Homo sapiens: one gene and its partner. The protein of the gene in region 1 purifies or fractionates together with the protein of each later gene. This does not show direct contact. Each region holds a gene or a part of one and is shown in the gene's direction. Other genes may lie near its edges. The genes, in order: KCNJ4 and DMD.

Evidence for each region.
Region 2: the proteins of KCNJ4 (region 1) and DMD purify together in Homo sapiens (affinity purification with western blotting, with the first as the bait; one study listed by BioGRID). This does not show direct contact.

Annotation. Positions count from the first base shown.
Region 1 is NC_000022.11:38,448,646-38,452,465, reverse strand, and holds part of KCNJ4 (inward rectifier potassium channel 4), read left to right. Parts: intron 1-3,820. UniProt on the Homo sapiens protein: Inward rectifier potassium channels are characterized by a greater tendency to allow potassium to flow into the cell rather than out of it.
Region 2 is NC_000023.11:32,343,786-32,347,605, reverse strand, and holds part of DMD (dystrophin), read left to right. Parts: intron 1-1,525; coding exon 1,526-1,663; intron 1,664-3,820. UniProt on the Homo sapiens protein: Anchors the extracellular matrix to the cytoskeleton via F-actin. Ligand for dystroglycan.

The DNA of each region.
Region 1 (3,820 bases):
TCCCATCTCAGCCCTAGATGCTCGGGGGCTTCTGGGGGCAGCGGCTAGAGGCAGGACGTGGGCTCCAGTCTTGGGGAGATCCCAGGACCAGGGCAGAAAGTCAGGTCATGTTGCCAGCCCCCTGTCTGGGTGGAGCCTGGGGGCAGGGAGGCTTGGTTCAGGACCCTGGTCTGTCAGTGCCTTGCTCTGTGACCTTGGGCAGCCCCTTGCCTCATGTGGAGTCCACATCTGTATAGAGAACGGCTGGCCACTTAAGATCTTGGCGATTCTCCTGAAAGAAGGTGCCCTTAAGTTCTGCGGCTCTCCTGGGCCCAGAGGAGGGAGCCCTGGATTTCAAATCACCCTCTGTGACCTTGAGCAATTGGCTTCAATGCCTCATGCCTCCATCTCCCCACCTGTAAAATGGGGATGACAGAATCCTCAAAGGCAACAGCTATGAAAGCAGGAGACAGGAGTAGAGATAAGGCCTCTGACTCTGAAACCATAGACACTCAGGGGCCCGTGGATCCAGCATGCTGGGCAGGGGTTGGACAGGGTAGAGTGGGAGGGTGCCTGGATTCAGACAGAAGGTTTGGAGCTTAAATCACTGGTCTGATGCCTTCGTTTTACAAAAGTGGAAACTGAGGCCTGAGGGGGAAGTAGACCCATCAGGGTCACAGTGATGGTTTGTGGGCGGAGGAAGCAGAGCCAGGGCCATTGTTTTACAAAAGTGGAAACTGAGGCCTGAGGGGGAAGTGGACCCATGAGGGTCACAGTGATGGTTTGGGGGTGGAGGAAGCAGGGCCAGGGCCTGAATCCAGGGCTTCTGGCTCCCAGCTCTATCTGGAAGCAGACAGACAGATGTCCCTGTGTAACACTGTGGCAAGCCCAGACAGGACCCAGGAGCTTTGAGGGCCCAGCTCTGAATTCGGCCACCTCCTTTCTCCCTCCCTTCTCTCCAGATCCCCTCACCCCACTGTCCTTGGGCACTAATCCCCTCCCTCTATTGGTCTCTTTGAAGAACTCCTTTCAGTCTCATTTTAAAGCCAGTTTCAGGCAGTCCCAGGCAAGGACAGGTTGGATTTGGGGTTAACTGGAAGCTTATGCTCCATTCTAGAAAATTCCCAGAGCTGGAGGTGGAGCAAGATAGGGAGCAGCTGTGGTTGTTTTGTGAGATAGTGGGCTCCTCAATCCTAGAGGTATTCAAGCAGAGCCAGATGAGCACCTGCCAGGTGACTCTCGCCTTACGGGTGAGGCCGAATAACATCCCCACTTCCAAAATCCTAGGAGTCTTTGGTGTTTCCCAAAGAGGAGCTGGGAAGCAGTGCCCATCGCTTCCCCGCTTCCCAGCGAGGAAACACATTTGCTCGCCAGGCACTGGGCTAGGAGCTTTTGCAAATTCCCATTTAATTCTCCATGGCAATGTTGATTTGATGTCCCCGTGTTATAGATGGAAGGGCCATGGCTCAGAGAATCTATGTGATTTGTCCAGGGTCACACAGTAAGACAGCAGAGGAGCCTGGGTGTGAGTTCAGACTAGTCTGATTCTCGGGGGCTGTCTCTGGGGCTTCCCTGGGGAAAGAGTGGAAAACGTTCCTCCCTGGGGCTGGGGCTTGGCAGGAGATGGTCTAGACGCCCCCACAGCGTGACACCCCCTCAGGGATCCTCTGGCTCCTCTGGGGGCTCCATTCTGAAGACAGATACCACCATGCATCTTAGGGGAGAACTCATTTCATAGATGGGAAGACTGAGGCCCAGAGACAAGGAATGACCTGCCCGAAGGTGCCCAGAGAGTTAGATTAGGGCCAGGCTGCCTGTCTCCTGGCCCAGGGCTCTGTCCCCTGTGCCAGTGAGTGAGGAGGGGCCTTTGGGCTGACGGTGGTGGCATGAGGTGTGAGGTCGGGAATGCAGAGGGCTGAGAGAGGGCTGGCTCCAAGCTAGGGCTGCAGGAGGAAAGTTATCGGCGCAGGGAGAGGGGAGCAGAAGGGAAATGGCACATGTGCTACAGAGCCTGGTGAGGTCAGTGGGACCTGGCTGGCAGGAGAGGGTCTTGGAGACAACTTCCTTGGGTGGCTCTCTGTGTGACCTTAGGTCAGTCCCTCACCCTCTCCGAGTGATGTCCACCCATCCATGTGAACCTGGGCTGAAAGATCTATTTCCACCGAGTAGCTGTGGTTGGGCTGCTGTCGAAAAGCGCTCCTCCCAACGATGGGAGGACTGTGGGTCCTGGCAAGGGGCAGGCGGGAATCCTAGGGGTTGGCATAACCTTTAAGCCTCCTCTGCGGACTCAGCCCTCCTTGGGGTGTGGGGGATCGCCAGTCACAGCCCTTCTTCTCCTTTTCATCTTTATTTTTCTCCTGTTCCCTCTTCCCCTCGCTACGTGGGCTGATCGCTGCTCAAACTTTTAATTCAGATGGTAATTGAAATAATAATATGGGCTGAGGCCCCTCTGCTTGTGACGCTGCAGCTGGTGGAGCTCGGCTATGAATAGACCTTGAGTCACACACGCGCGCTCCTGCAGGCGCGCACACGGGCGCTCACGGGGTGGTGGGTGGGGTGCAGCATGGGGAGCAGGGGTGAGCTCACGCTCTGGCTTGCTCTGGTCTTGGCCCCCCACTCCCAAAGGTCTTGACCAATCCTGGCCCCGTGGCCCAACACGGGGTCCCTGTCGTGAACCTGGAAGACTTTGGACATAGATGATTCTCATTTACAGAAGGGGAAACTGAGGCTCAGCAAGGGGAAGTGGCTGGCTGGAAACAGGCTGGATTTGAATGGATGGGTTTTGCCTGATTCTAAGACCACTGTTCTCTGTTGGGACACACAGGGTGGGAAACCGGTGGGGAGGAGTGCTGGCGTGTGGCCCCTGCCCCTCCCTCTGCACCCGTTGCCCCACCTGCTCGCAGCCCCCTTTCAGCCTGCGCGTGCATGCTCAGGCACAGACACAGGCACACACGCATGCGCATGCGTGAGGGCTGCTCAGATGGCTGGTGCCGTTGCTTGGTGGCTGGGGTGAGAGCAGTGTTCTCAGGGTATTGCTGCAGGAGGGAAGCTGAGTGCCAGGCTCAGCGCTGGGCTTCATATTCATGATTTCACTTAATCCTCCACCACCCTGGGAGAACCATCACCCCCACTTCTCAGATGAGAATACTGAGGCTCAGAGAGAAGCAAGGATTGGTTCCAGGCTCCTGGGTGGAAACAGCCACAGATGCTTTGTCCTACTGTGCACCCAGTGCCAGCCCCTCCAGGACCCTCATTGGCCACCTGAAGGGAGGTGGGTACATGTCTGCCAGCCTAGGCCTCCCCTTTCCTTCCATGCAACAGCTCAGCCACTCCTCCCTGTGGCTGCTGGCCAGTCCCTGACCAGCCCTGGTGCCAACAGCTGGGACGTCTGGCCTTGGCAGGCAGGGGAGGGTGAGGTGCCCCAGAGAGACATTGGCAGGTCAAGAGGTCCTTAGGGGCTACCAGGAAAGGGGGTCCTTGGTGTTCCCGACCCCAGCAGGAGCTGTGGAGGGAGAAGTCAGCGTTGTAATGGTGACCTGTCAGCTGGGAGCTTTGGTCTAGGCCTGGGGGGCCCCCAGCAGGGCAGAGGGGAGCTGGGGCATGGGAGGTGCAGTTGGGCGGAGGAGCTCCCTGGGACTGGGATGGAGGAGAAGCCCCCACCAAGCCTGGCCCAGCAGCTCCTGTCTGCGGCTGCATTGGCCTTCTCTCCATTTCCTCTCCTGGGAGATGGAGAAACCGAGTCCGGAGACCACCAGGGTTTGCCCAGGGTCACTCAGCAATGGTGGCAGAGCCTCTCAACCCGGAGCTGCTCCTGACTCCTCTGTGTCCTGATGGCTCCCAG
Region 2 (3,820 bases), on another chromosome or scaffold:
ATTTTAGGTAATAAGTGTGTGAAGCAATAGGAGAACTATTCCCACCAATCTTAGTTCCCACTTCCTGGAGCTGCCTCAATCAATACTCCCCATGTATGGGGTTTGGTGGCCTTGCCAACTCAGCTTGTGGAAAGACGGAAGAGGCTTTCCAAGTTGCTGAGTTACAGCAATCTCTACTTCAGGTCAAAGAAGAAACTAGAGGGCACCAAGATGAAAAAAAGTACTGATTACCTCTTGGGCTGACCCCAACTCTGCCCTAGAGCCCTCAACTGGTATAGGGAAAGAAGTGAAGTGGGTTTTTTAATTTTTTGTTGTTTTTGTCCTCAGCCCTAGAAAATGCTACAGACTTTTACAACACCTTTTAAAATAAGTAAAGTCTTTTACAGACTATAAGTATATGATGTGTCTATATTATGATAAGTATATAATGTGTCTATATTATGCCGTATGTTTCTTTAGATTATTGACCAGTCTCTGACAAAAATAATCCCTTTCCCCCATACAAAATGAATCAGTCCTCAGTTGCGTGTTGAAGTTTATGCATTATAGATTTAAATATATAACATCTAATTCCTTGAATTGTAATACACACATACAAATACTTGTGACTTTTGAAATTTATTATTTGTTTTCCTTATGTCATCAGTGTACCTTGAGTACCATTACAATGTGAGACTACTTGATACAAAGTTTTCACATTCTGAGTTGAAAGAAAGAAAACTAAAGGTGAAAAATCACATGGTCATATATGCGACTATATTAGACCAGCATTTATTCAAAACATTTTATTTCTAAGTAAAGAAAATTAAGATATTGTTCTTGCAGCCTAAAGGAACAAAATACCCATTGAAAATGTTTAAAGCCATTTTCCAGTCCATATTTTAGTATTATTTGATCGTATTTAAATTAACATGCATATATGACATATTTTAGAAATTATTTGATGGTAACTTAGCACATGATTTTTATTAATATCCTGATATTTCTCCTATTAATATTGAGCATTTAGGTTTCAGAAATGAAGCAGGAGTTATTAGATAGGAATTAGTGTACATTTAAATCAAAATATTTTCATGTAGTTGTGTGTTAATATTTTCAGATTTGCTGTTATCTCAGTCACAAATACACATCTGTATTCCTTTATGGATCAGTTAACATTATAAATGATAACTTTAGCTCATTTCTCTAATGTTTTAATTTCTAGAACTACACTAAAAAAGCCAAAAGAATACTTTCACAGTAATTCATGACTTGTCTGACATGATGAAGTACCACACTCCCCCATCTTTCTACAGGTGCCCCTAAAAATGTGTTCTTTACAACTAGATGGGAGGAAACTTATTTTGAAACCTCAAGTACCAAATGTAAAAGAAAGGCTATGAGCACAGTATCTTATAATAGCATTCCATGAAAGTTTTAAATTGGATTTTTGTGTGTGTTTAAATAACATGTCTTATTATCTCTGTTAACAATGTACAGCTTTTTAAAAACCAAAATGAAGACTGTACTTGTTGTTTTTGATCAGAATGAAGACAATGAGGGTACTGTAAAAGAATTGTTGCAAAGAGGAGACAACTTACAACAAAGAATCACAGATGAGAGAAAGCGAGAGGAAATAAAGATAAAACAGCAGCTGTTACAGACAAAACATAATGCTCTCAAGGTATTAGAGCTAAAATTATAATATACCTTGCCTGTGGTTTTTTTTTAATATATAGGGTAAAATATAATGTGCATTAATAAAATCTGCTTCAGACTTAGTCATCAGAAACTCACTTTTTCTGTTCAATGTGTATGCTTTATTTAACATTTTTGAGTGGTATTTGATTTTGAACGATGTGTTGCTTAAAAGTTATGGCTTTTTAAAGACATATTTTTCTAAGTAGTAATTGAAAGATGGGAATGCATTCATAGTACTTATACATTTAATTTTCTAATGTGCTTTATTTTTATCAGCTACTTTATATTGAAAAAAACCTGCCTAACTGCCAGAATAACCGATCTACATGTATCCATTATTCCTGCTTTCTTTACTTAATTGATTTTGCTTGCATTAGGTCCAATTTTTTGGTAACCTGATACTTGTTTAATAAGCCCTAGATTCTTTTATTTATTTTTAAAACTTTATTATGCCTTTAAGAAAGTCACTCTTTGCAACTATCTACAAAGTCAAATTTCATTTATGTAGGAATCCTAAAAAATAATCTTAGTGCCCTTGAATAAGAACTGCTACTTTCATATTAAGCAGTGTAGTGTATGGCTTCAAGTCCCCAGGTGACTCATCTGGTTTGTGCAGGAAGAGCAGGATAAACTTAATTTTTCTATAATAATATCTAGGAAGTTCTTGAGACTAGACATGTGGAAAGTTTTGTGAAACTTTTTTTTTGTATATGCTTTGCAATAATCACTATTTGCATGCATGGCTGATTTTCTAATACTTTTAATTGCTGAGCTTTTCCTTGTAAATCACTCTTTTGAGCTATGTAGTTATGAAGGTGGATCCACCTAGCAGGTAGATGGAGTCTGCTTTCTACATGCAAATAAGAGAATAAAACCTTTCCCCCTATAGTCAACCAAATAAACACTGCTGAGAATGTAATTACACAATATTGTGCCTGCAAGGAATCCACAAGGAAAGTCTAATTGGCCAGCAGGTGTTCTGAAGGTAACTGCTGATAAATATAGTAAACAGAAAAGGCCTCTTCCTCGAGGGAGTGCAAAAGCACACCATAATGTGTCTAGAAAATCGGAACGCTATGTAACTCACACCCTTCCAACTGTGAGCAAGCTTTCAGAAGTATCTACACTGGTCGTATGATGGTGTGTGTCCTACTGAATAGCAGTGTTTAATGGTCATCTGGCATTCCTCTAAAGAAATCTACATGACATCTCTAAATATTTTACATATTATACATCACTTTGTGCTTAGGAAATGAAAGATGTTTCAGATTGATGACCACCAAGCCCTTTCTCCTGGCAAAGATGTGAGTTATGTCACAAATAAGGCATGGCTCAACTCTAATTCACGTGGCTGTATCTTGCTACCTTTGAAAAAAGCAGCGTTCGATCTGACTCCTCAGAAGGTTTGAAAATTCAACATAAAACATAAAGTACAGCAAGGTTTAAATTCCCAATTTTAAACAAACTAGATAATGAAATGTAGTTCATTCTTGCAAATACAGGCTATAAGTGATTAATCAAAATCGTCAACACTACTCGCCAAACCAATCTATACCAACATATTCAATAACTTTTTAAACCTGTCAAATAGTTCCAATTCTGGTCCTTATGAAATATTTTAGAGAAGGTCAAAATTTTCCAATGGAATGAAATTTTTAGAAATTCCCTGATATTTATTATTTTTTCGCTCGAATTAAACCTGTGAATAAAACCCTAATTGCTACTTTCTGTAGAAATGAAAGCTGCATGCAGAGCTTATGTTCCCATGAATTATAAAATGGCATTTTGAGTAATTCTATTAATCACAGAAGATATTGAGTGTGCTTGTAAAGAGCATGATGACTGATTTCCTCCCATTGTTGATTTATTAAATTAGTCTTATCACATTGATTTGAAAGCATGCACTTGCTGTTTTCTTTTTTCAAATAGTTAATTGTTTTGCATTTAGAGCATGATTTGGTATAGTAAGATAAATGTGGCTATGCAAGCCTTGGAAGGAGAAGCATTTATCTCACATAATTTTTTATTAGTTATGTTCACCAATATACGAACAGTGGTGACACTTCTACACATACAGCTTGGAACAGTTTATAAGACAACTAAAATGGCTTTATATTTCTAATCATAAAATATTAATGGC